2 linked regions of the Homo sapiens genome follow. The protein of the gene in region 2 interacts with the protein of the main gene of each other region in a pairwise test. Each region holds a gene or a part of one and is shown on either strand. Other genes may lie near its edges.

Region 1 (3,755 bases), on a different chromosome or scaffold from region 2:
GCCTATCTTGTCTAATTTAAAGTCCATTTTATCTGCTATTAGTATAGCCACTTCAGCTGTCTTTTGGTGACTGCATGGTATATCTTTTTTCATCTGTTTTATTTTATTTTATTTTATTATTGTTTTTAGAGACAAGGTCTCGCTATGTTAGCCAGGCTGGTCTCAAACTCCTGGCCTAAAGCAATCCTCCTGCCTTGGCCTTCCAAAGTGCTGGGAATACAGGTGTGAGCCACCACACTCGGCCCTTATCCAACTTCTAGCTTCCGTTGTAGCTATTGAAGTCAGATTTTAGTTTATCAGTTACTCCTTTAAGCATACTTTGGAACTTTATCCTCAGACTCTCATTACCTTTAGAATTTTCTCTGATTTTGGCTTTCTGCAGTTTTGGTATAGTGTATCCAATATGAATTTCTTTTTACCTTTTTCTTTTCTTTTTTTTTTTTTTGAGACAGAGTCTTGCTCTGTTGCCCAGGCTGGAGCACAGTGGGACAATCTCAACTCACTGCAACCTCCACCTCCCTGGTTCAAGCAATTCTCCTGCCTCAGCCTCCCGAGTAGCTGGGACTAAAGGCACGTGTCATCATGCCCGGCTAAATTTTGTACTTGTAGCAGAGACAGGGTTTCACCATGTTGGCCAGGCTGGTCTCGAACTCCTGACCTCAGGTGATCTTCCCACCTTGGTCTCCCAAAGTGCCGGGATTACAGCCATGAGCCATTGTGCCTGGCCGAATTTCTTTTTACAAATTCTGCTCGGGATTCATTAGATTTCTTTAACGTGTAGAGCAATTTCTTTCTTTCTTTCTTTTTTTTTTGAGACGGAGTCTCGCTGTGTCACCCAGGCTGGAGTGCAGTGGCACGATCTTGGCTCACTGCAAGCTCTGCCTCCCGGGTTCACGCCATTCTCCTGCCTCAGCCTCCCGAGTAGCTGGGACTACAGGCGCCTGCCACCATGCCCAGCTAATTTTTTGTATTTTTAGTAGAGATGGGGTTTCACTGTGTTAGTCAGGATGGTCTTGATCTCCTGACCTCATGATCTGCCTGCCTCGGCCTCCCAAAGTGCTGGGATTACAGGCGTGAGCCACCGCGCCTGGCCGTGTGGAGCAATTTCTTTAATCAGTTCTGGAAAATTATCAGCCATTATCTCTTCATATATTGCCTCTATTCCATTAACTTTTTTATCCTGTGTTATTATTTATTTTTGAGGTAGAGTCTCGCTCTGTCACCCAGGCTGGAGTGCAATGGTCCGATCTCGGCTCACTGCAACCTCCACCTCCTGGGTTCAAGCAATTCTCCTGCGTCAACCTCCCGAGTAGCTGGGATTACAGGCGCTCGCCACCGTGCCTGGCTAATTTTTGTATTTTTAGTAGAGACGGGGTTTCACCATGTTGGCCAGGCTGGTCTTGAACTCCTGACCTCGTGATCTGCCCGCCTCGGCCTCCCAAAGTGCTGGGATTACAGGCGTGAGCCACTGCACCTGGCCTACCTAAAGTCTTTGTGGGCATTTCTTCTGGTTTGTTTTCATAGTGCTTTTTTTTCTTGTGTACCTGTTTACTTAAAAAAATGTTTTTTTGGCTGGGCGCGGTGGCTCACAACTGTAATCCCAGCACTTTGGGAGGCCGAGGCTGGTGGATCACGAGGTCAGGAGATCGAGACCATCCTGGCTAACATGGTGAAACCCCGTCTTTACTAAAAATACAAAAAAATTAGCCGGGCATGGTGGCGGGCGCCTCTAGTCCCAGCTACTTGGAAGGCTGAGGCAGGAGAATCGCTTGAACTCAGGAGGTGGAGGTTGCAGTGAGCCGAGATTGCACCACTGCACTCCCGCCTGGGTGACAGAGCGAGACTCAGTCTTAAAAAAAAAAAAAAGTGTTTTTTTGGCTAGGCATGATGGCTCACCCCTTTAATCCCAGCACTTTGGGAGGTGGCTGGATTGCTTGAGCCCAGGGGTCCAAGACCAGTCTGGGCAACACAGTGACACCCCATCTCTACAAAAAAGTGAAAAAAATATAAATTACCTGGGCATGATGGCCTGTGCCTGCAGTCCCAACTACTTGCAAGGCTGAGGCAGGAGGATCGCTTGAGCCTGGGAGGTTGAGGCTGCAGTGACTCATGATTGTGCTGCTGCACTCCAGCCTGGATGACAGAGTGAGACCCCATTTCAAAAAAAGAACATTTTAAAATTGAAGTATAATATAGTTCAGAAAAGTACACATATTCTAAGTATATGGCTTACAGAATGTTTACAAATTGAACATATCTATGCAGCCAGAATTCAGATCAAGAAACAGGGTATGGCTGGGCGTGTTGATTCACGCCTGTGATCCCAGCACTTTGGGAGGCTGAGGTAGGCAGATTGCTTGAGCCCAGAAGTTCTAGAACAGCCTGAGCAACATGATGAAATCTCTACTAAAAACACAGAAAATTAGCCGAGCATAGTGGCATGTGCCTGTGGTCCCAGCTACCCAGGATGCTGAGGTGATCATCACCTGAGCCTGGGAGGTAGAGTCAGCTGTGAGCCATGATTGCTTTACTGCATTCCAGCCTGGGTGACAGAGTGAGACCCTGTCTCGAAAGTCCCCCCACCAAAAAAAAAAAAGAAAACAGGAAAACGCAGGCTATTGGCCGGGCATGGTGGCTCATGCCTGTAATCCCAGCATTTTGGGAGTCCGAGGCGGGTGGATCAGGAGTTTGAGAGCAGCCTGGCCAACATGGTGAAACCCTGTCTCTACTAAAAAAATATAAAAATGAGCTGGGCATGGTGGCGTGCACCCGTAACCCCAGCTACTCGGGAGGCTGAGGCAGGAGAATTGCTTGAACCTGGGAGGTGGAGGTTGCAGTGAGCCGAGATCGTGCCACTGAACTCCAGCCTGGCTGACAGAGCAAGACTCTGTCTCAAAAAAAAAAAAAAAAAAAAAATGCAGACTATTATCAGCTCTAGAAACCTTCTAGAAACCTCCTTATATGCTCTTCCAACCCCTACCAACACCTCCCTCCACCTCCCCATATTAAGATAGCTACTGTCTTGACTTTGAGAGCATAGATGAATTTTGCCTACTTTTTTTTTTTTTGAGACAGAGTCTCACTATGTCCCTCACGCTGGAGTGCAGTGGCGTGATCTCGGCTCACTGCAACCTCCACCTCCCAGGTTCAAACGATTCTTCTGCCTTAGTCTCCCAAGTAGCTGGGATTACAGGCGTGCGCCACCACACCCGGCTAATTTTTCTATTTTTAGTAGAGACGGGGTTTCACCATGTTGGTCAGGCTGGTCTCAAACTTCTGACCTGATGATCCACCCGCCTCGACCTCCCAAAGTGCTGGGATTACAGACGTGAGCCACTGGGCCTGGCCTGCCTACTTTTAAACTGTGTAAATAGAATCATACAAAATATAACTTTTTGTATCTGGCTTCTCTTCCTCAGTGTTATGTTTTTGTGATTTATTCATAATATTGTTCTTAGCTGTAGACTCATTTATTCTTGCTGTGTAGTATTCCACTGCGCCTGGTTACTCTTGATTATATGTTGTACATGGTATTTGAAAACTTATGGGAATTTTAGCTGGGCATGGTGGTGCACGCCTGTGGTCCCAGCTACTCGGGAGGCTGAGGTGGGAGGATTGCTCGAGCCTGGGAGGCGAAGGTTGCAGTAAGCCAAGATCACACCACTGCGCTCCAGCCTGGGTGACAGATTGAGACCCCATCTCAAAAAAAAAAAAAAAAAAAAAAAAGAAAAGAAAAGAAAATGTACTTATAGGAA
Region 2 (3,755 bases):
GCTATTCTGAATAGGTAAAGTTGTTAGAAGTTGAATGAAAGACTAAGTAAGTAAAATGTTACTATATACTTTATAATGAGAAACTACTAATATTACACTTAAATTAGCCAGTCTGAAAATTATAACTACAGTGGCCATCAATACTCTTTTAAATACCTGCACTGGCTGTCAGTGTTGTTTTCTGCTCAATTCTGAAACGAATTTCCTTTACCACTTCCTGGGCTGATGTTCCAAAAACAACTGAGTTTTGGAGTATTTGAGGATTGTTTTGTTCTTCAAAGTTCACTTGGAAAGGATCTCCTGGGGGCTGCACATCAGAAGGACTCTCTTCAAAAAGTAGTGGAGAGATGGATCGTTCATGCTCACTCAGTTTATTAACTTCCTTTCCTGGATTATCTAAGTCATAAACAGGAAAATAACTCACCTTTATTTTAAGAAGTATATACTTCATAAGTTAGGTTTCCCTACATTATTTCTGAAGACAAAAACAAAAATCTAGTTTAGTTTAGTTTCTAGGATCCAAGATCAGAAATGCCATCATTTATCATTTAATGTTTTATAACCATTAAAGAGAACACTGATTATGAATTTTTCTTAAAAAGACTATTATCCATTTCCACAGTATAAATATTAAAAGGAAATATCTTATGTAAAACTCACTAATGTTCGTACCTAAATTAATTGAAATTCAGAATTAGGTTTCAGTTCACATTACCTTTTTCTTAAAAAAAAAAAAAGGAAATCTTTTCTTTATTCTTCTTTAGGAAGAAAAAGAATCTTCGAAAATTAGAATTTAGAATATAATAAACAATATATAATAATTATACTGAAAATAAGTTTTGTTTTTAGAAGGAAAAACACTTAACTTTTCTTCATTTATGGAAGAAACCTTTTAGATGTTAAAATAATCTGAATTTTCTTCTTTCAAATGCTGATTTTAATTTTGATTTGCTTGTTTATAAAGTATCACTTTGACTAAGGGCACATTTGTAATAAATAGAAATTACCTGTGAAAGTTATGCTTCTTTGAATATACAAATTCTGAAGGTCTGATTGGATAATCCAAGTTTAAGAAAAAGAGACGTTATTATTAATAGGCTATAAACTATTATTACAAAGTAAAGTAAAAATACCAGTCTGGTTATTGCCTCTTTATATTTATATTTTTCATAAATGGACTGTAAAATATTCTTAAATCTATACTGATACTAAAAATGTCTCCATGAACAAATCTATTAAAGCCTGTTTTCTTGGCTTAATGTAGAAGAAATACAATTTAAATGTATTTATAACAACCAAGGTTAGCAACAAAGCTTTCTGATCCCATCTCGTAATTTTATTACATATAAATATTTTCCAAATTAAGGTCAATACAGAAGAAAAAATTAAATTTCTAGTTTTAAGATGCATACGAATGTATATTACTTGAAAAATGTATTTGGCTGTTTAGGAAAAAATTTTAAAGATAATATAAAATAAATATGACAGACATCTGATTAATTTAAAAATTTAAAATATGTAGTGTGAAGTAAGTCATAGATGTTAATTCAGTCAGATGTTTTCCAAATCTGAATTCCCAGGGCACATACACAATAAGCTTATTTTCTTTCTCTCTTTTTTTTTTTTTTTTTTTAAGACAGGGTCTCCCTCTTGCCCAGGCTGGAGTATAGCTAGGACTACAGGCGCGAGCCATCACGCTTAGCTAATTTTATAATTTTTTGGTAAATATAGGGTTTCACAATCTTGCCCAGGGTGGTCTCAAACTCCTGGCCTCAACTGATCCTCCCACCTCAGCCTCCTAAAGTGCTAGGATTATAAATGTGAACCACCTTGCCTCGCCAATAAGCCTTATTTTCAAACTTACATTAGCTGATATTTATGTGCTTCAGTTCCTGTCATTTTTTAATATGCTGGTTTTAAAATGTAGAACAATTCAGAGGGGAAACAGGCCAGGCAAGGTGGCTCACGTCTGTAATCCCAGCACTTTGGGAAGCTGAGGTGGGAGGATCACCTGAGGTCAGGAGTTCGAGACCAGCCTGGCTAACATGGTGAAACCCCATCTCTACTAAAAATACAAAAATGAGCCAGGAATGGTGGCGCACAGCTACTCCGGAGGCTGGGGCAGGAGAATTACTTCAACCCAGGAGGCAGAGGTTGCAGTGAGCTGAGATTGTGCCACTGTACTCCAGCCTTGGTGACAGAGTGAGACTCCATCTCAAAAAAATAAAAAAAAATAAAAAAAAAATAAAGACTGTGAAACAATTGAAATGGTATCTACCTGGAGCCCTTTTCCCCATCTGGATGGGTAGAAGTCACGGTAAAGAAAGCTACAGAAAAACTGCAAACCAAGTAAGTTATCTGCCACATTCATAAACCCGTTCTGCAGAGTTTTTTATGCCATGTTTTGTACCTCATGCCTCTACCACCCTGCCCTCAGGTGAGCCACTGTGAGAGCAGAACTATACAGCAGGAAGTGAAGAATGCTGCCTTCTCACACATTATCAGAGCTGCTGCAGAATGTTCAGGTACCTTTTCAATCTGAACTACTTTCTACTTTTTTGTGAGGCCTGGCTGTGTAACTAAGAGCTGAAGTAGTTTCTTATTTGCTTTGTGACAGAAACATCTTTATAATCCCCATAACTAAGGTAATCAGAATGTAACACTAGGATTAAAGCATTTCATTTGGAAGACAAGTGCTAAAAAGTGTATGGTATTTCAGTTTCTTATATTATCTGGCACTCACCATCCAGATTTACATGGGAGAGTAAACATTTAAAAAATTATTATTTTATTTGTATGTAGAGATGGTAGTTAGCAATATATTTCCAAAGACAAACACCTTTTAGAAAATGGGGAAACAGCAAAACAATGTCTTGGACTTTAGAGGAAGATATATCAATTGCCTTCCACAGTTCCAATGCACTATTGACAATTTCCCATGGCATGATGTGAGGTGAGACACGCCTGAAAGTCCAGCCCACAGGTATTTACACATGAGAAGAAAAGTTTAACTATTCCAATTGTTTAAGAATATGAAAATACACGAAGAGGGCAATATACAAGTAAATATGTTAAAAGCAATAGATATTAAAAATTCACATATTCATAGTGAGTTTGGACATTATAATAAATGAAAAGAACATTAGTAGGCTGGGCGTGGTGGCTCATGCCTGTAATCCCAGCACTTTGGAAGGCCGAGGCGGGCAGATCACCTGAGGTCAGGAGTTTGAGACCAGCCTGGCCAACATGGTGAAACCCCACCTCTACTAAAAATACAAAAAATTAGTCGGGTGTGGTGGCACGCGCCTCTAATCCCAGATACTTGGGAGTCTAAGGCAGGAGAACTGCTTGAACCCAGGAGGCGGAGGTTGCAGTGAGCTGAGACTGCACCACTGCACTCCAGCCTGGGCAACACAGTGAGACCCTATCTCAAAAAAAAGAAAAAAATTAGTAGAAAATGAAAACATTTACTTTAATCCCAATGTAAAGCTTTTAAAACACATCATGCAAGTAATTGTTATGGGAGGCCCTCAGGGGATGCTTTGACATAATTATTTAATGATTTTCCCCCATTCTCTTGTGAAAGTAAGGAATTAATAAAGTAAGATTTTATACAAAGTGACATCAGGCTTTATGTTCCACATCCTCAAACAATAAAGTTACACCAAATAAGGAAAACCTTTTGCTCTGTGCCTGTGTCGAGAAATGATGATTATTGTTTAATGCTCCTATAAAAAAAAAGAGAGAGCTATCCC

What was found.
Region 1: the proteins of POLK (region 2) and TRAIP interact in a two-hybrid assay, tested with the Homo sapiens proteins (one study listed by BioGRID).

What each region holds. Positions count from the first base shown.
Region 1 is NC_000003.12:49,849,812-49,853,566, reverse strand, and holds part of TRAIP (E3 ubiquitin-protein ligase TRAIP), read left to right. Parts: intron 1-3,755. UniProt on the Homo sapiens protein: E3 ubiquitin ligase required to protect genome stability in response to replication stress.
Region 2 is NC_000005.10:75,577,850-75,581,604, reverse strand, and holds part of POLK (DNA polymerase kappa), read right to left. Parts: intron 1,050-3,755; coding exon of another isoform or gene 1,008-1,049; intron 397-1,007; coding exon 157-396; intron 1-156. UniProt on the Homo sapiens protein: DNA polymerase specifically involved in DNA repair. Plays an important role in translesion synthesis, where the normal high-fidelity DNA polymerases cannot proceed and DNA synthesis stalls.